Linked DNA regions of Homo sapiens: all the other regions are linked to region 2. Evidence: fine-mapped expression QTL. A gene starts in region 2. Each other region holds a variant in brackets. All regions are shown on one strand. Distances are from middle to middle. Region 1 has its middle 19 kb from the start of ASB17. Region 2 holds the start of MSH4 (mutS homolog 4). Region 3 overlaps ACADM (acyl-CoA dehydrogenase medium chain). Region 4 overlaps LOC105378806 (a long non-coding RNA gene).

Evidence for each region. PIP is the estimated chance that this variant, and not a neighbour inherited with it, causes the effect. A credible set is the group of variants that fine-mapping cannot tell apart.
Region 1: its variant is the best candidate, but not a certain one, in a credible set for the expression of MSH4 in prefrontal cortex (GTEx, PIP 0.69).
Region 3: its variant is the best candidate, but not a certain one, in a credible set for the expression of MSH4 in sigmoid colon (GTEx, PIP 0.74).
Region 4: its variant is the best candidate, but not a certain one, in a credible set for the expression of MSH4 in testis (GTEx, PIP 0.84).

The regions. Positions count from the first base shown.
Region 1 is chr1:75,949,106-75,954,259 of GRCh38, reverse strand. No RefSeq gene overlaps it. Among named protein-coding and RNA genes, the nearest start is that of ASB17, 19 kb to the right of the region's middle. The variant C/T (reference allele first, on the strand shown) is at 2,505.
Region 2 is chr1:75,794,090-75,799,243 of GRCh38, reverse strand. It overlaps MSH4 (mutS homolog 4), which reads right to left and starts at 2,362. Exons shown (of 20, transcript NM_002440.4): 1 at 2,015-2,362. The coding sequence starts at 2,258. It overlaps RABGGTB (Rab geranylgeranyltransferase subunit beta), which reads right to left. Exons shown (of 9, transcript NM_004582.4): 8 at 5,011-5,154; 9 at 4,158-4,734. The coding sequence ends at 4,594.
Region 3 is chr1:75,736,833-75,741,986 of GRCh38, reverse strand. It overlaps ACADM (acyl-CoA dehydrogenase medium chain), which reads right to left. Exons shown (of 12, transcript NM_000016.6): 7 at 1,877-2,007. Among named protein-coding and RNA genes, the nearest start is that of ACADM, 15 kb to the right of the region's middle. The variant C/G (reference allele first, on the strand shown) is at 3,170.
Region 4 is chr1:75,980,130-75,985,283 of GRCh38, reverse strand. All of the region lies in intron 2 of LOC105378806 (a long non-coding RNA gene), which reads left to right. Among named protein-coding and RNA genes, the nearest start is that of ASB17, 50 kb to the right of the region's middle. RefSeq lists an enhancer at 3,521-3,580. The variant G/A (reference allele first, on the strand shown) is at 3,073.

The DNA of each region.
Region 1 (5,154 bases), 160 kb before region 2:
TACCTGCTCCAAGGAGGTAATGAAAATGATTAGAAGACTTAGCCAGCAGCTACTGATAGGATGAATGTATGTTTAGGAAATCCAAGAGTACAGTAATAAAATGTCCTGAAATGACATTGAAAGTCAAGGAAGTATAAAATATATGAGTTGGATGGAAAAAAAATGGAGTGATCTGGTAGTCACTACCTTAAAGAAGGATCAAACTTTGCTTCACTAATGCTGGGACAGTATGATGTCATGTAACTTCTGGTATGATGCAAAATAATACTTCAATATAACCTATGAAGTAATCTTGTAAAAAAATGCTACACTGAATTTAATGAAGTTAGATTACAAAAAATATAACAGATAACGCCAGGCATGGTGTCTCACGCCTGTAATCCCAGCACTTTGGGACGCCGAGGCGGGCAGATCACTTCAGGTCAGGAGTTCAAGACCAGCCTGGCCAACATTGTGAAACCCCATCTCTACTAAAAATACAAACATCAGCCAGAAGTGGTGATGCATGCCTGTAGTCCCAGCTACCTGGGAGGCTGAGGACGGAGTGTGGCAGGCCAGTTCTCATTAATTCAGGCTTCCATTGCAACTGTCCCAGCACTGACTGAGTAGCTAAGTTAAACATTAAAAGGTGATTGAGCCAGTGCCCTTTTACAAACTGGAATGTAACAAAGAGCCCGCCAAGAGTTTTGCTTAGGCTTTTCCTGGGCCTTGAAGCATGACAAGATAACAAAGGAATTCCTGACAGAACCCTTTTAGGATTAAAGAAGTTTTATTGGGGGTCTGAAGAAACTCCCCAGGCCTCCACAAACAAGTTTATTGGGGTCTAAAGGAATGTCCCAAACCTTTATGATTTAGCAGGAGACAAGATAAAGGTAATCACCCCAGCACCTAGACCCATTTAGATTAAGTAAACTTACAGAGGCTCCAGAAGAAGGTCTTCAGGACCCAGACCTTAGTTATAGATAGATTAAAAGAAGTTAATCACTTATGTCTTTAGATTTAATGCACACTTACATGTAGACATATAGCTTATAAGGTATATAAGCTCTGGAAAACTTTGTAATTTTCAGTTGGTCTGGTGATAATTTCCAGGCCTTCTCCCTGTAGCTGGTTACAGAAATAAAAACTCTCTTCCTCCCCAGTTCATCTGCATCTTGTTATTGGGCCGCAAGAAATAGCAGCCCAACCCTCAGTTTGGTCCGGGAACAGGAGGATCACTTGAACCCGAGGGGCAGAGGTTGTAATGAGCCATAATTGCTGCCACTGCACTCCAGCCTGGGTGACAGCAGCCTGGGCGACAGAGTGAGACTCCGTCTCAAAAAACAAAATAAAAAAAGAAAGAAGAAAGAAAGTATAACAGATAAAGAAAGAAGTTAAATCTCAGTATGAGGAAACAATTAGACAAATTCAGAATGTAGGATATTCCATAATCATCATGGAGTCAATATTATGAGAGGAGTTTGAAAACTGTTTCAAAATCCAAAAAGACAAAAAATTAAATGCAATTTGTGAATTTCTATTGGTTTTATATTTTTACAAAAACTCTAAAGACACATCTTAGGACACTTGGGGAAAGTTGAATCCGGACTAGATATTAGATAATTTAGAGATGAGCTGGCGAATTTAGAAATTATGTGCTATAATATATTCACTTTCCAAAAGAGAAAACTAAAGACCCAGGGAGTTTAAATGTGTAATTTTGGATACAATTATACGTTTAATTAACCATAGTGTTATGTTTAAACCCAGTTCATCTCATTCTATATACAATGCTCATTTCACTATTAGAGACTAATGCTATTTATATAAATCATGCCTATTATATAGGATAATAAAAATAACTAACCATATAGTAAAGAAGGAAAGAAATGTCACTTTTCATTTATCTTTTACCAATGGAGTTCATTAACTTGCTTACTGAGTGTGTTAAGGTTGACTAGTTTTCCTAAGTAAGAGCACCAGCCTCTATCTTCTGCATACATATATTGCTCAAGTCTTCTTAATCCTTTAGAATTAAAGCCATATATTTTCCTGCTGGTGCAACAATTAAAACCACAACTGAGCAACCACAGCAGGAGGCAGAAAAGATTCTATCTTGTCCCTCTTGATTATAAAATTGTATACCACCTCCCAGAGAAATACAAATGTAATGAAATTCTGGAACAAGAAAAGAGATGTACAGTATTTACAAACTTAAAACTTGCGTGGCTTGGGTCCATTGTTGTCTTTCTATTTCCCTCCACAGCTGATATTCAGTCCTTTTCATTATCAAGAGAATGATCATTTGTCCATGAATACATACCCATAGTATTATAGACTTACCCAAACTTAAGTAGATAAAAACAAAACAAAACAAAACAAAACAAAACAAAACAAAACAAAAAAACCTCTACCACTAAAAATCTCTCACTCCTTTTCATCTTATCAGGGAGCTGACAGGAGCTGCAGATATGCATGTCTGTTAGTTATTGGCTTGTGGTTTTGTTTGCTTACTTGCTGTTTTG[C/T]AACAGAGAGTAAGCTTTTGTTCCTCCATTTGTGTACAAGAAAATTGTTAGAAATTCACATACATGATCAATACCCATTTAAGCACTGAAATGACAACTGACAAAATTCAGTGATATTCCACAACAAAATAATCTTTTCATTTGACAAAATATTTTATTTTTAAACTAAAATTAGCTTTAAGAAAGTATACCACACATTGATTTTACTTTATATCCTCTGCAAGACACTGCCTAGATAGTCAATAAATATTGGTATGGCAGACCTTTGAATAATGGTTCATTCAACATCATTTTGTTATAACACTGATGAGAAAAAAAATCAATTCCAAGCTGGGGCCACTGTCTGTGTGAAGTTTGCACATTCTCCCCATGTTTGCATGGGTATTCTCTGGGCACTCTAATTTCTTCCCACATCCCAAAGCTGTGCATGTGTGTGGAATTGGTGCATTTAAATGATGTCAGTCTGAATGAGTGTGGGGGTAAGTGCGCCCTGTGATGGAAAGACATCCTGTCAGGATTGGCTCCCACCTTGTGCCCTGAGCTGCCAGGATAGGCTCTGGCCACCCAAGACCCTGAACTCTAATAAGCAAGTTGAAAAATGAATGAATGAATACAAATTATTGTCAAATAAAAATTCATAAAGTAGGTGGTAATCATACCGACATATGACAATAAATGATGAGCTATGAAAGTGCACAGAGCACCCACCCTGTTTGTCAGTTAGTTTTTGAACTGCATGATAGTAGGAGATGTTTCTTGATTTAATAACCATGACTGCCATCACTTACTGATTCACCAAAAACTGGGTAAATAATTATCTTGCTTGTGTTTATTAATCCTAAATGTATGAATAGTTCACATGTATTTCCATGCTTAATATTAAAAGTGTTTTGTGTCTTTATTTAAAAGTTTAGTGGCTCGATATGCTGGCCCATGCCTGTAATCCCAGCACTTTGGGAGGCCAGGAGTTTGAGATTAGCCTGGAAAACAGAGAGAGACCCCATCTCTACAAAAAAGAAAAAGTTAAAAATTAGCTGGGCATGGTGGTGCACAACTGTAATCTTGGTTACTTAGGAGGCTGAGTTGGGAGGATCACTTGAGCCCAGGAGATCAAAACATAAAAAAATTGTATGTTTTTGTGATCGGAAATGTGTCTTAGAAACGTAACTCTTTATATATATATATATCAGTCTATGGTAAAATTGGTTTTGTTATAAGTAGTTTCTTCTAAAGTTGCATAGGTTTCCAAGAGCCTTATCAAGGACATGAAATGAAGACTTACTGTATTTGGTTTCCAGCATCTATTCACGTAGTTATGCTAACCAACAGAATGATGCACAAAACCAAATGATAAAGACTCACTTCTTTTTCCTCCTGGCCTGAAAAACAGGAAGGCATTGTTCATAATGTGATTTGGGCATTATGTAACTGGTATTCTCAGATACTGAGAGTGATTAAAAATTCTGTTCTAGTGAATAGTTTAATCTCCCCAATGAACTCTTACTGATTTCCATTGTAAAGCATTTCGTCCGATGGCTTTCATTACCTCTGTCTAGATGATCAGATTTTTAAAAATAACAGTTCACATTAATAATGTTTTACTCTAGTCCTTCTCCAATATATTTTAGTCAGTTGCTCCTTTTTCCCTTAAATGATTTGTAATGCAAATGAAAGAATCTGAGAAGTCACAAGTTGGATTCTGACCTCTTAAATTAACTTCATTAAAATAGCTCTAACTACAGAAAAGAGCAGACCTTCTTGCTTTGGGGGTGAAAAGAATCACAATCTGAAATGTCAGTTGCCTCAGGCAGGCACATCACATTGAGTTGCATTTAAAGCTAGCTTCAAGCTAGCTTCACACTGAATTATAAAAGTCACTGAAGTCATCTCTTTTCATCTAAAGGAAAATAATTTTAGTATTATTTAACATTGGGAATAATGGTTCACGGATACATAACAGCCTACTAATTTTACCCTTATATAATACCAACTTTTCTCTGAAAAAATAAAAAGCCTATAAAGCTACCTAATAAGTGATATAATTTGATATAATATCAGTGTATATATGAATTAATGTGATAAAAATGTAGAGACAATTCAGTAATTGTTTTAGTTGGCAACAATGAAAATTTGTAGTTAATGATTATCTGATGAGGACAAGAAAACAGTTTTTTAAAGTCTAGAAGTATAAATCTGTGAAAGCAAGTAAAGCCATCTCATAAAAAAAAGTTTTAAAAGAAGGAGCTCTCTGGTAAAAGGAATTTGAGGAGATTAAGTGTTTGAAATGCTTGTTCCCTGGTGCTGTAAAGAAATAGCACTTGAACGTAAATTTAATTTACTCAGCAAGGCCATTTTTACTTCCTGCAGAAAGGGTATACTCGCCAGCAGTTTTGCCATGAGAGTACATCAAACAAAGGAGACAGGGTCATTTATAAACTGACGCATCCACCCTACTGCTGTGTCCGGTTTCCATTGGCTGGAAAAAGACCTCACATTCTGTATTTGTCCCGACTGGCTAGCAACTTGGAGCTTTTTAAAAGAGGCAAAGGCAGAGGAGAACAAAGGAAGGAGGAAGTAACTTGTGGAATGCTGAAAAAGGTAAAAACACCTTCAAATAAGAAAGAGGAACAGGCTATATGACCTAATGTTT
Region 2 (5,154 bases):
CCGTCTGCCTAGTAAGAAGCCAGAACAAAGTAGGTGCATATAAATTAGTGAATGTTATCATTACTGATAAATAAGTGGGTGACCAAGCATCTGATGAAGAGAGGGATTAGACTGACAATGTGAACATTCATGTTGCTTTAAAGGAATTGCAAGTAGCTCAGTTTTGTTAGAAAGCAGGGTAAATATTAAATGATGAGGGATAAATCTGTAAAGATTAGAAACCGATCCCAATTGCTTTGGCTATCCTTCTAGAGAGTTTGATCTTTTACCTGCAGATACAGGTCTACTGATTTAAGTGGCAAGGGACATGATAAGATCATTTTCCACATAACTCTGGTGGTACAGTAAGTAAGCTACAAGGATGGAAGAACACTTAAGAGTTTGAGGGCTAGGTGCAGTGGCTCACACCTGTAATCCCAGCATTTTGGGAGGCTGAGGTAGGAGGATCGCTTGAGCCTAGAAGTTCGAGACCAGGCTGGGCAACGTAGGAAAACACTGTCTCTACAAAAAAATTTTTTAAATTAGCCATCTGTAGGGGCACATGCCTTGGTCCCAGCTACTCGGGAGGCTGAGGTGGGAGGATCGCTTGAGCCCAGGAATTTGAGGCTGCAGTGAGTCATGACCATGCCACTGCACTCCAGCCTGGGCAACAGAGCAAGACTCTGTCTCAAAAAAAAAAAAAAAGTGCAGAGAGGAATTTAATTAATCATATAGTCAGCCTGAGGTATCCATTAGTCCATCAATAAAAACTTCAGAAGACAGTCTGAAGTAAGTCTGGAGTGTAGATGAGATCTGAGCTGTGGAGATAGTCACATCTAGGTAGAAGTGGCCTAGGAAAAAAAGCTTTAATGACATGCCCATAATTTGGGAACAAAGGTGGGCACAGCAATTCTCTGGGAGGTAGCAGAAAAACAGGGGCAAGTGGAATCAAGGAAGCCAAATTAAAAGAGTTTAAGAGAAGACCAGTCAAGAACATTAAACATAGGCCAGGCAGCAGTGGCTCATGCCTGTAATCCCAATGCTTGGGCAGACCGAGGCAGGAGCACTTGAGACCAGGAGTTTGAGACCAGCATGGGCAGCATAGCGAGACTCTGTTTCTAAAAATAAAGAAATTAAGAACATTAAATACAGCAGAAAGGTCACATGAGATGAACTGAAAAATGACCATTGGATTTGGTATTTGTTACTTTACCATTGTGTTGCAATCGTGTGTGAAAAATGGTGATGCTTTGTCATGAATAGAGACTAACAAAATAATAAATGATTTGAAGGACATGCATCTTTTTTGTTTGTTTGTTTTGAGTCAGGGTCTCACTGTGTCACCCAGGCTGAAATGCAGTGGCGCAATCTCAGCTCACGGCAGCCTCGACCTCCCGGACTCGCCATCCTCCCACCTCAACCTCCTGAGTAGCTGGGACCACAGTCACGTGCCACCACACCCAGATAATTTTTGTACTTTTAGTAGAGATAGGGGATGGGGGTGGGAGGTTCACCATGTTGGCCAGGCTGGTGTGGAACTCCCGGCCTCAAGTGATCCGCCCACCCTGGTTTCCCAAAGTGCTGGGATTACAGGCGTCAGCCACCGCCCAGCCCACTCTTTTAATACTAAACATATTATTTTCCCTGAATTAGATGAAATGTTCAATTTAATCTATTTTATCCCACCTTAGCAGGATTTGGAGAATTAAATTCAGCAGCCAAAGATCAGCTCACAACTTCTATCAGCAAACTCACGCACAAACTGTCATTTGTCAGACACTGTGAGGGACGTTATATGGGATACTTCAGCCTTTCTCAGAACTGAGCCATCCACAGTCAAGGTCTTGCAATAGAACCAATTTGAAAAGTCAAGGCTTCTAATCACCCAGACTCACCAAATTCCCAGGGCACTCAGATCTCACGCCCCAACCAAATCACAACTTCACTGTGGTAACCACCACCCACGTGCCCCCGAGCCTCCATGAACTGCCGGCCTCTAGCCTCAAGGAGACTCCTCCACCCAATCACTCCTTGCCTTGAGCTGGCCGGGAGTTTGGCGCGGGGCAGGGAAGGCTGCTGCTGCTGCTGCTCCGGTCGCCCGCAGCTCCTGACGTGCCAGGACAGGTGGATGCAGAGACCACCTGGACCGAAGGGCGGCTCTGTGGAGTCTCCTGGAGTCCGAAATTGTAGCGGGGACCCTGAGGTGAGCGGGTTTCTCCCGACGACGGGGAAACCGCCGGGGCAGAAGGCGAGGTTGATGAGATCTCAGGCCTCAGCATCCTCCCAAACCTTCCCTGACCCGAGAAGTATGAGGTTTCTGAGCGACCCCTCCAGTAGCCCAACTACAGAAGCTGCGCCGCTGAAACGGGCGGGAGAACTGCGCGCCGACGCACTAAGCTGCACTGCGCAGGCGCAGGCAGGCTCAGCTTTCCACATGGATTCACGTACTTCAGGTCTATGACCCTGCTTCCAGCCATTCCCAAACCCATCACTTTCCACATGAACCTCACTGGAACATCCTCAGCCTGCAGGTATCAGACTGACCAGAACTCTGCAAGGCCCATCAATGACCACCCGATTTGTTAGCCCCATTATTCTCACAGCACCCAATCTCCCTTATTGCAAATGTTACATGCATTTCCCACACGTCCAAGCACACTAGCTTATCTTTAAATGTAGAAACCACCCAACACAGTACACCCAGTGCCTTTGACACAATGAGAACGTGTAATGCTCACACAGCATAACCCACCTAAGGTTGATCTTGTGACCAAATATAGGAAAGATAGTTATATTATCAAAAGATAGTATGCACATGGCTGTGTGCATAGTAGAGTAGGAAACAGGGAAAGACTGACTGGGTAAGATCTCTCAGTTAACAATTCCCCATCTACCAATTTCTAGTACTGTGGTTTCTAACATATAAATCAGTTAATGGCACACTAGAAGTTCAAACTCCAGCTTTGCAGTGGTGACCTTTAGAAAATTCCTTAAATAAGGCCAATAGTACCAACTTACCAGAGATCCATGGATTAAACATGACGAAATTATCTGGATACTGCCATACAGAAGCTATTAGAAGACATTAATTTACACCACTACTGAAATCCTGCCACTGTTGAGTATCTCAATAAACCAGTTATGCACAGCGGTTTACCCACATGCAGTGACAACAGTCCTTAAGAACATCTCTGTTCTTGGAATGATTATTGCACAGGGCATTCCAAACATACTTGAGAAAAATCTCAATTTCCATCAAAAAACCTTATTTTCAGATCGGGCACGATGGCTCCTCCCTGTAATCCCAGTACTTTGGGAGACTGAGGCCAGAGGATTACTTCACCTCCGGAGACCAGCCTGGGGAAGACAGTGCCTGTCCCCAAAATTAAGAAATCAGCTGGGCATAGTGGGCATGGTGGCAGGTACCTGTAGACCCTGGTACTCAGGAGGCTGAGGTGGAAGGACTGCTTGAGCCCAGGAGTTTAAGGTTACAGTGAGCTGTGATTGCACTACTATGCCCCAGCCTGGGGAAGAAAGGAAGACCCTGTCTCTAAAAAATAAAATTTAAAAATAGAGAATACCTCACTTTCACCAAAACTGTAAACCCCTAGAGTGATTGTACTCATTTTAGGCCAGGCGTGGTGGCTCACGCCTGTAATCCCAGCACTTTGGGAGGCCGAGGTGGGTGGATCACAAGGTCAGGCTGGTCTCCAGCTCCTCAGCATGGTGAAACCCTGTCTGTACTAAAGTAACATAAAAATTAGCCGGGCATGGTGGTGTGCGGCTGTAGTCCCAGCTACTCGAGAGGCTGCGGCTGAATTGCTTAAACCCGGCAGACGGAGGTTGCAGTTAAGCTGAGATCGTGCTGCTGCGCTCCAGCCTGGGCAACAGAGATTCTGTCACAAAAAAATAAAAAAGAGTGATTGTACCCATTTTAGCTTTTTAAGAAAAAGACAGGTGCAAAAAAATACTGTGGTGACCATCAACTTACCCGTTAGTGTTTCCTTATTTGAAGACAACTCCTTCTTTGGGTAATTCTGATATATAAAATGCTAAAAAAAAAAAAAAAAAAAAAAAAAAAAAGGACAGTCCGAATCACAACCCCATTTTAAGATGGTAGATTGCCATTTAACCTAAGTCTGTGACCAATTCAGAATAACCATATTCAAACCTATCAATCATTTCCAAATTTCAACAGCCATTTATTTTGTGCATCATTTAATTCATGTATGGGTTCTATCCACTTTCATCAGTTAACATTCTTGTTGACAAACCAATTTACATCAACTTGCTATAGAACAGATGAAAGGTATACATGGGGGAAAAATCAAGTAGAAACCTAGAGTTATTTTATGTTAGCTCAGTTATTGAACATAACAGACACAGAAGTATACACAAAGAACTGTAGTCAGAATAACAGGACTTCAGAATAAAAAGCAGAAAATAAAATACCGGTCTTTATTTTACAATATGTATAATTATATAATTTATTAAAATTAATTTAACACAATATACAAAATATTAACAGTAGTCACTTTTAGATTCGATAAGCACTTCAAATACAGAAATGTTAAAATGGCAAAACTATACTATGCAACTTTCAATTCAATGAATCTAGCTCACTAGCTCAGGCTGAACATTCACTCTCTGAAGCACTTCTTCAGGCATGCAAAAGACAGGATTAACAGGTTTAATCTGTTCTTCTCCCAAAAGTGACAATCCAGCAATTCCAAATAAGGTATGAAAAGGATCCACCTATTTAAAAAAGAATTTATATACAGATCACAAAATGAAAACTTCTTTAACTTCAAATTATGAATACCTGACCTTTACCATATACTAATTTTGTTAGCAACAAGCGACAAGAAATTTCTGTAAGATTGTTCTATATCCTTCATACACTCTACAATAAATAGAAAAAAAAACTGCTTTCAAAGCAACACTCGGAATGCCACCCTGGAAATCCATGGAACCATGAAGTAATGCAAACGCTGAAATAATTTATAGAAATATGTCAGAAATATTACTTGCCATATCTCCTGGCCTGTCTGCAAATCCCCCCGTTTCTTCATCTTGACATGCTAAAATGAAATTACGCAGTTTCTCTCTATCAATCCAATGAAGTCTTCCAATTATCTTTAGGGAAGCCAGGACCCACCATGAGTAGCATACATC
Region 3 (5,154 bases), 57 kb after region 2:
ACTACTGTTTCTTTATGCAGCAAGTCAGTGTTTTTGTTATAGCTGAGTTATTATGAATATTTGCTGATTTTTTCCTACAGAAGAATTTCTCAGAAAGATCTTGAAGTGCAACATAAGAAAAAAATGCAAATATCCAAGCATCTGTCTAATTCATGTTCTATATATCCTGGTACACGAAAAATTCTTTTAAAAAGGTATATTCTTCCCTAAACAACACAAACTTATTTTCTTTGGTTAAAACCAATACATTACCACTCATTCTATAGTTTTATTTAATAATAGTAACAAAATCGTAAAAATTGTTATCTGGTTTCATATATTACCTAATTTGCCTTACTATATGAACAGTGAACAGTTGTAATCAGTTCTTTCTTTTTGTTTTAATTTTGTAAAGATGGGGTCTCGTTATGTTGCCCAAGCTGGTCTTGAACCCCTGGGCTCAAGCAATCCTCCTGCCTCAGCCTCCAAAACTGCTGGGATTGTAGACGTGAGTGATTGCACCTGGCTAATCCGTTTTTAAAATTACGAAAACTTCAAACTGCATTGTTAGATTTCTCTCAACTTGTTAAATTTTAATAGTTTCTTCACTTTTTATTAGTTGCTGATATTACCAGGAATTGGTTAAAGGTAAAGATATAGCACTCCATAATACTGAATATATTTAGGATGCTCATAAGGAATTGACTGATATGTTTAATCTAAGTAACTTTTTAGTAGGCTCACTCTGAAAAAAAATGATGTTTTATTTGCTAGAAAACTGTAGTATATGGCACACAAATATATTGAATCTGAATTTTTTACAAAGAGAGACAGGTCATTTAGTACATTATTCCAATCAATAAAAAGTTATTCTAGAAACTCTCTATATACTTGTAGTGATGGGTAAATACAGTATTTCCCATGACAACTTAACAGCACTGCTGATAGAAAGCCTGTCCTTATGTTAAGCTAAATTCTACATTTTTCTAACTTTCACTCATTAATTCTAAGCTGGCATCCTGAAGTAAACATATAAGCCTGATCATCTTTCTGTGTAATAATATTTGAAAAACTTCAAGATTCTTCCAAAATAACCAAGGCTTTGCTTTTCAGAACATGTTTTGTAGGCTCCTCCTAATGCAAGATACTTACATGCTTCTAGATTTAGTCAAGTTTTTCAATACATGTTTTAAAATGTGTTGCCCAGAACTGTCACCATTTTTTCTCTATTTGATGCTGTACTTCTATTACTTTGGCTTAAAATTACATTGGCTTTTTAAAGGCTCATACTATTGATTCTTATTGAACTTAACAGTTATTGAACTTTCCTCATCTTTTATCAACAAATAATCGAGTGTTTTTTTTTAGTATTTTATATTTATACAAATTATTTTTGATCCTTTGTTGAACTTCATATTTTTTGACCATATATTAGAAAATTTCAGATTTTATTAAAGTCAAATTCTGTCTTCTCTAATAGATAACCTGTTTTAAGACTGACTCTGTTTATTTCTGACATCTGGAGACAGGCACTATACCAAAGGTTCTCCTTTTTCCTTAGGGTTTTAGGGATTCCAAGGAGCGGCTGGTATAGGAGATGAGGAGTGGAGATAATAAGCCAAGTAGACAGAGTGCTAGCCTTCCTAATCAGATTCAAACAGAGCACGCATTTGTATTTTATTTTACACATTAAACTTCTGAGAGTTAATTTGAAAAAACAGTGCAGGGGCTTAAAATTAGTTTTTGAAAATCACTGAACTGTTTATAATCTCCTTTAGGCCTTCCAGTTCCACAAACATACCTTAACTGTAGTGGTTTAAAAATATACAGAAAGAAAGAGAGATTTGAAGATAAAACAATTAAGAAAAAATATACAAAGATGTTTTGAACAACATACCAATTAGCTTTTCCTCCGTTGGTTATCCACATCTTCTGACCATTAATAATATACTCATCTCCTTTCTTTTCTGCTTTGGTCTTTATACCAGCTACATCAGAGCCTGCTCCAGGTTCTGTTACACAATAAGCCTTGAATATATAAAAACAAGAGAAATGAAATTAAATGTTAGTGATTAAATTTTGACTGTTTGGAAACAGGATTGTTTTATTTTTTAAGCTGTATTTTAAATATTTTTAAATATCTAAAATTAAAATGTTCTTACAAAATCAAAGAAACCACTCAAATGTAAAAACTTTTCTGTTTTGTTTGTAAGAGACAGGGTCTCACTCTCTTGCCCAGGCTGGAATGCAGAGGCTCAATGCAGTCTTGGCTTCCTGGACTCAGGAAATCCTCCCGCCTCAGCCTCCCGTGTATAATAGCTGAGACTGCAAGCACACATCACCATGCCCAGCTAATTTTAAATTTTTTGTAGACATGGCATCTCACTGTGTTGCCTAGGCTGGTCTCAACCTCCTGGGCTCAGGCAATCCTCTGCCTCAGCCTCCCAAAGTGCTGGGACTACAGGTATGAGCCACAGTGCCTGGCCTAAAAACACTTAATATATAATTCAAATTAGGCATAGGTATATCAACAAATCATATATTTAATAAAAAGTGAAAATGTTAGATAGCTTTAAACAAGTTCATTAAATTCAATTTCACATGTATTCATTCATGCAAACATGTATTGAATATCTACTATGTACCACGATGTAAATTAGGATATGGGGAAACCAGAGGTAAAAGACATTCAGTCCTAGAGATTTTCACAATGTAACAGTGAAGATAAATAACTATACTGCAACTCTATGTGTGAAAGTCAGACAAGGGGCTTGAGAAACTAGTTTCCCAGGGCAGAGGATGTTTAAATTAAGTCTCAAAAAGGAAAATGGCTTCTTTGCGAGGAGGGAAAAAGAGGAAGAATATGCATTCCAGGTACAAGTAATGGCATATGCTATGACACTAAGATAAGAAACAGAGTTACCCAGTGTTTCTAATGCTGAAAGTACCAGAGTTCCACAGTATGTAAATTCTGTGCATGTAAGGGAATGGTAAGACATGAGTCTGGAAAGAAAGGAAGGAAATGGTCGACGAGAATCTTTTATATCACATTACAAATTTAAAATTTTATCTGGTAGAAACAGGGGAGCCTCTTAGAGCTCTTAAACAGAGGAGTGACAAGACACAAGCAGTAATGGATAAAAGGGGGTGGTAGAAGGCAAGTGTTAGTGCAAGTTAATTCAAGAGTGGC[C/G]GGTACTGTGGATACTAAAGAAACAAGTTACTTGCCCTTAAGGTACTTACAGTCCAAAGAAGAAAGAAACTGGGCCGAGCATGGTGGCCCCCCACCTGTAATCCTAGCATTTTGTGAGGCTGAGATGGGAGGATCGCTTGAGACCAGGAGTTCAAGACCAGCCTGGTCAACATGCCGAGAACCCATGTCAATTTATTTTTTAAAAATATACAACAAAAAAGAAAGAAACTATATACATTTTAATTCAAAGTAGTAAGCATATATAGGGGCACTAGAAATGATTACTTAGGGCCGGGCGTGGTGGCTGAGGCTTCAGGTTTGTAATCCCAGCACTTTGGGAGGCCGAGGCAGGTGGGTCACCTGAGGTTAGGAGTTCGAGACCAGCCTGGCCAACATGGTGAAACCCTGTCTCTACTAAAAATACAAAAACTTAGCCAGGCTTGGTGGCGGGCGCCTGTAATCCCAGCTACTTGGGAGGCTGAGGAAGAATTGCTTGAACCTGGGAGGTGGAGGTTGCAGTGAGCCGAGATGGTGCCACTGCACTCCAGCCTAGGCAACAGAGCGAGACTCCATTTCAGAAAAAAAAAATAATAACAATACTTGGCTGGGCATGGTGGCTCACACCTGTAATTCCAGCACATTGGGAGGCCAAGGTGGGCAGATCATGAGGTCAGGAGATAGAGACCATCCTGGCTAACACAGTGAAATCTTGTCTCTACTAAACATACAAAAAATTAGGCAGGCGTGGTGGCACGCACCTGTAGTCCCAGCTGCTTGGGAGGCTGAGGCAGGAGAATCGCTTGAACCTGGGAGGCAGAGGTTGCAGTGGGCCAAGATCACACCACTGCACTCCGACCTGGGCAACAGAGCGAGACTCCGTCTCAAAAAATAAATAAATAAATAAATATAACTATACTCAAACATCTGAAGGGCAATATAGCCAAAGAAAAGTACAGTGAAATCACTCTAACATTTATTGAACACCTATTACAGTATGAACTGGTAAAATTATAAAAAAAAAAATGACAGGTTCTGTGCTTAAGCATTATGTAATCCAAAATATTTTTCTAATGATAACAGATGCTCGCAAATGATGCTGTTTCAGAAGGTGTTGATTCCCAGGCACCTGAGGTATAAAAACATGTCAGCCAGATGGTCTTTTGACAGGGATTCTGTAGAGGGGATTCAGGTGTCACTCAAGTTAACTGAACTAGATTACTCTGCTACCTGGAGATTTGATGTATTCAGCATCATGACAAATTAAGGAGTTGTCCATAAAAGATGCCCCTTTTAAGTACCAAAATTTTGTTTTAACCACCTTTAAGGTATTTTTTTCCCTGAAATATGCTATTAGACATCTGTCTGTTTCATAATACAGTGAAGTTTTTAGAGCCTGTGAAGTAAATGAGCCTGTTTTTTTCTATACAAAATGGCTTGTCACTACTGGTTCCTCAGAGTTGTTTTTGTCTTCTTTTCTTCTTTTTGGTTTCATATATATATATATATATATATATATATATATATATATATATATATATTTGTGTGTGTGTGTGGTGGCAGTCTCTCAACGTTGTCCAGGCTGGTCTTGAACTCCTGGCCTCAAGCGATCCTCCTGCCTTGGCTTCCCAAAGTGTTAAGATTACAGGCATGAGCCACCATGCCTGGCCTGTTCTTGGCTTCTTATTTGATCATTTTTATTTATTTTTTTTCTGTATTATTTTTTACCATAACATTATTTTCCAAAGTAAAAACCCAAGGAGTTTAAACATTCAACAGTACAGAAAAGTGAAACAATTTATAGCATATCCATTAGATAGCAAATTATGCAGTATTGTTACAGCATGTAAAAAGAAGGAAGGCATAAGAAAATGTTCATGTTGTTAAATAAAGATGTACATAAAACTACATGTATATAATGGGGGCTAACTGTTAAAAACACAATTACATATTTAAAAATGTGGTAGGCACTACAATAAGGAAGTAAT
Region 4 (5,154 bases), 190 kb before region 2:
GAGCATCCCCCTGTCTGCCAGCATTTCCCTGGGTCCCTGCCTGGCCATACCTGCTTGCAACACAGTGTCAATGCCCAACCAGGACACTTCACAGCAGCCACTACCATAGCTTCTTCACTGGTAGACTCCACAAACCATCAGAGAGCTCCTGCAGACAGTGCCCCCCGCAACCCCGGCATGCACCTATCTGTAACCTCCCCCAGTTGCCTTAGCAGTGCATGCACATGAGCAGACCTTGCCATCCCAATCAAGTGCTTTTGCCAGCACCCCCCACCCCTGCCCATTGGACTGTTGTTGGCAGTGGACCAGGAATACCTCAGCCCCTCAAGCAGAGCAGGTGCTTAACCTCAAGTGGCCAGAGAACAAAGCCATGGGCCTGGTCCCAACTTCCCAAAGTTAGCGCATGCAGCACTGGAGTCCTGAGCTGAGTCTTGGCCCCCTGAAATTGTCCAGAAATAAAGCCAATCAACTGAATCCAACTTACACCACAGTCAAACCCTTAAGAGCATCAGAGAATATAAAGAGCTCTGGTGACTCTAAAAGCCACAGTGTCTTCTTACTTCCAAATAACCATGCTAGCTCCCCAGGAATGGTTCTTAACCAGGTTGAAATGGCTGAAATGACAGACATAGAATTCCATACAGAATGGCAATGAAGATCATGAGATTCAGGAGAAAGGTGAAAACCAATCCAAGAAATCTAAGGAATCCAGTAAAACATTACAAGAGCTAAAAGATGAAAGAGCCATTTTAAAGAAAGTACCAAACTGATCTGATAGAGCTGAAAAACTCACTATAAGATTTTCATAATACAATCAGAAGTATTAATGGCAGAATAAACCAAGCTGAAGAAAGAATCTGAGAGCTCAAAGATCAGTTTTCACATCAACTCAGTCAGACAAAAATAAAGAAAAAGGAATAATGAATGAACAAAACCTCTGAGAAATATGGGATTATTTAAAGAGAACAAATCTACAAATTGGTACACTTGAAAGAGAGGAAGAGCGAACAAGCAACTTGGAAAGCATATTTGAAAGTATTATCCATGAAAATTTCCGCAACCTCACTAGAGAGATTGACATTCAAATCCAAGAAACTCAGAGAATCCCTGTGACATACTAAACAAGACGGCCATCCACAAGATACAAAGTCATCAGATTCTCCAAGGTGGAAATGAAAGAAAAAAATGTTAAGGGCAGCTAAAGAGAAGGAGCAGGTCACCTGCTCCATCAGACTGACAGCTGACTATTCAGAGTAAACTCCACAAGCCAGAAGAGATTGGAAGCCTATATTCAGCATCTTTTTTTTTTTGACGGAGTCTCACTCTGTCTCCCAGGCTGGAGTGCAGTTGCGCAATCTCGGCTCACCGCAAGCTCTGCCTCCTGTGTTCATGCCATTCTCCTGCCTCAGCCTCCTGAGTAGCTGGGACTACAGGTGCCTGCCACCATGCCCAGCTAATTTTTTGTATTTTTAGTAGAGATGGGGTTTCACCGTGTTAGCTAGGATGGTCTCCATCTCCTGACCTCGTGATCTGCCTGCCTCGGCCTCCTAAAGTGCTGGGATTACAGGCATGAGCCACCACGCCTGGCCTATATTCAGCATCTTTAAAGAAAATAAATTCCAACCAAGAATTTCATATCCAGCCAAATTAAACTTCATAAGTGAAGGAGAAATAAAATCCTTTTAAGGAAAAGAAATGCTAAGGGAATTCATTACCACCATACCTGCCTGACAGGAGGTCCTTAAGGGAGTAGGAAGTGATCAGTTGGAAACCATGCATGTCAATGCCTCTATCTGGATGTTCAGCAGTACAAGAAAGGAAGTGGAACAGGAGCTGCAGCTGCAAAAAATGTCATGATTGAAGTTAAGCTCTTTTTTTGGTTTGTTTTGTTCTTATGAAGGAAGGACTTCTAAGCTGATGGTAGGAAAAGAAATAATAAAGATTGGAAATAAGAAATATAATTTTCTTGTCATTCTTTGAAAATAATTACATTCTTTTCTCATGTACATCCTGAGAAGAGGGTATAGTCAGTGCAAGTCATTTAAAGTCTCCTTAGTGACACCAGCAAGAAACAGAATAGGTCTTAGGCTCCATTGCTTCCCCACCCAATGTTTAACTAGCAACTACCGACAGATCAGAATACTTTTTTGAAAACCCCAATACTTGAATACAAGCCTGAGATTCCATGTTTCACATAACTGCATGAAAACTGAAATCAAAGTTTAAAAAGAATGGCCTCAAATTGAGCATGACACCCCTTTCCCTCCTCCTGCACAACACCAGACTGAGAAGATGGCTTGGGCCCACAGTTTATACAGGGAGAAAAGAGGACTAGAGGCAGTCATCCAGCTTTCCTAGCATTCTGAGATGTATTCCAGGAAATTCATTCTGGTCTCACCTTATGGGATACACTGTAGGTAGCAATAATGGCTAGACCACCCAGGGTTAAGTAGGAACAAAGAAAGGAAGTAGAGGTCATAGTGACTAGCATGCAGATCTTGGTAATACCTGTGTTCCTACCAGCTGGGGTGCCCAATCAGAGATATCCATCAACTTCATAGCCTATCTGCAAAGCTGAACTGGTGACCTTCAGAAGCATAACAAGAAGTTAATCTAGCTTGAGTGACTAGACAGCTAGTCTCCATACCCAGCCTCAGAGACCTCCCCAGTTACCCTGCCCAGGCACAATGATACTCACCTCTGCCCATTTTGGAGAAGTGTAGTGACCAGGCCTGCTTGACCATGGAAGTAAGCAGTGGCTCCACTCATACAAAAAGCCTGCCCAATGTTCTGCCCAGGCAGGGAGATTCTCATTGTATTAGTCAGGGTTCTCCAGAGGGGCAAAACTAATAAAATATATGTATATATGGAAGGGAGTTTATTAGGGAGAATTGGCTCACACAATCACAAGGTCAAGTCCCACGATAGGCTGTCTGCAAGCTGGGGAAGAGAAGCCAGTAGTGGCTCAGTGAAAGTCAGAAAGACTTAAAACTAGGGAAGTTGATAGTGCAGCCTTCAGTCCATGGCCAAAGGCCCAAGAGCCCCCAGCAAGCCATTGGTGCAAGTCCCAGA[G/A]TCCAAAGGCTGAAGAACCTGGAGTCTGAGGTCCAAGGGGAAGAGGAGCAGAAGGAAGCATCCAGCATGGTGTGGAACCACTGAGATTTGGGAATTAATATTAATACAACCTCATTCAACACACAGGCAGCTAAGACCTGGGCTTATTTGAGCCACACGCTTGCACTTGGAACACTTACAGCTTCCCTTTATTTAATTCCTGTGAATAAGGAGCTGTTCCTATCAACTGTCATTAAGGTCACTTCTAGTTCACAAATGGAAGGAATACGTGAGCAGCTTCTGCTCAGATGGCCACAAAATATCTTCAAAGTAAAATTCCTTTCTCTTTCTATATAGATTCTTGCTATAGTAACTTCACAGTTCTGCCTAGTCTTTCTCAAGCTATTTTTGTCTCTTTTGTTTATTCTTATACAAACTATGTGTCTCATTGGCCCAGCTGGTTGGAATAATTCTCAGACACCTACACCCTGGTCTCTTACTGACTCCATGGCTTCACCTGTTGACAGGGCATTGGGGCTGGTGCACACATAAGAATGATGAGCCAAAACAGCTCAAAACATAACTAATTTGATAGCTGTAGCCTAATTCTCCAAACTTCCAGCCAAAGGCCACCAAAACCGTAGGAAAGAGGGAGATCCCTATCCCCTACAAAAGGTGAACGAAAGGGTAAGCTGTCCTCAGGCCGAAGTGAGAGTTCTAACCTCTATAGCTCCAATTCCTTGGAGACTTAAGGGTCTGCTTTTCTCGTCAAAGAAACAAAAACAGAGAGAGACACACACAGGATGTGAATGAACTCTAAAGTCCAGCAAGCAAACAGAAACTAGTTATCAGTCAATCAGAGAAACAGGAAAACAACAAGAAGAGAAATGCAAGAAAAGTAAGAGGGGCAGATAAGGTGGATGCTGGCAGAAGGAGATAGCAGGACGGGCAAGTGAGAGAGATCAAGAGGGAAGGGAAGAAGAGACAGAGAAGGGGACTGAGCTTGATCAGTGTAACCATGGTTATACAAGGAGTATTCAAAAATCTCATGCAAAAGACAAGACATGTGAGTCATGTACCTAATACATGACTTAAAACTCCTCCCGCTTGTGAAAGGTATGGAGCTGTACAGAAGGAGAAAAAGAGCAGCAAGTTTCCTGGGGAGTCCAATAATACTATGTAATATCTATTGGGAGAGGGCTGGTTTGATCCATTATCTTACCTGGAGCTGGTCTACAGTGGTTACCCAATAACATGTATTACCTAATTTTAAATTTTAATTGTTCTTGTGCCTATACTGTTTACATAAATAATATGCCAGGCGCGGTGGCTCACGCCTGTAATCCCAGCACTTTGGGAGGCCGAGGAGGGCGGATCACGAGGTCAGGAGATGGAGACCATCCTGGCTAACACAGTGAAACCCCGTCTCTACTAAAAATACAAAAAATTAGCCGGGTGTCGTGGCGGGCGCCTGTAGTCCCAGCTACTCGGGAGGCTGAGGCAGGAGAATGGCGTGAACCCGGGAGGCGGAGCTTGCAGTGAGCCGAGATAGCGCCACTGCACTCCGGCCTGGGTGAAAGAGCAAGACTCCGTCTCAGAAATAAATAAATAAATAAATAAATAAATAAATAAATAAATAAATAAAATAATAATAATACATTACTTTGGTCATTAACAGTCAGTATATTAGTATTTTGGACTGGAATGGAACAGAATACTACCTGAAACAAATATATTTGTTTTCAATAAAGTGATTTTCTGTTTATCAGCTGTATGAGTCCCTCAGGGTGCAAGAGGCTGAGCCCATGTACCCTTAGAAATCACAGGCAGAGTCTGATACACAAAGGAGGAAAGACCAAAGTCGGGGAACCCTTGGTTGGCCCCCATAGGCAAGCGGGTATCTTTCCAGTTTCACTCCCTCCTCTTATTCTAGGTTCCTGGAACCCGTTTTTTGACTCATCCTCTGAACTCTCTGACCCGTATTTTTCAGTAGCCGCCTGTTATTAACCTATTTCTGACTATGGGTCTTTGCTGCTGAGTTTCATTGGAAGGTTCCCCTACCTCACTATTTCCACAGCCATCCCTCATCAGCAGCTGCTGCTT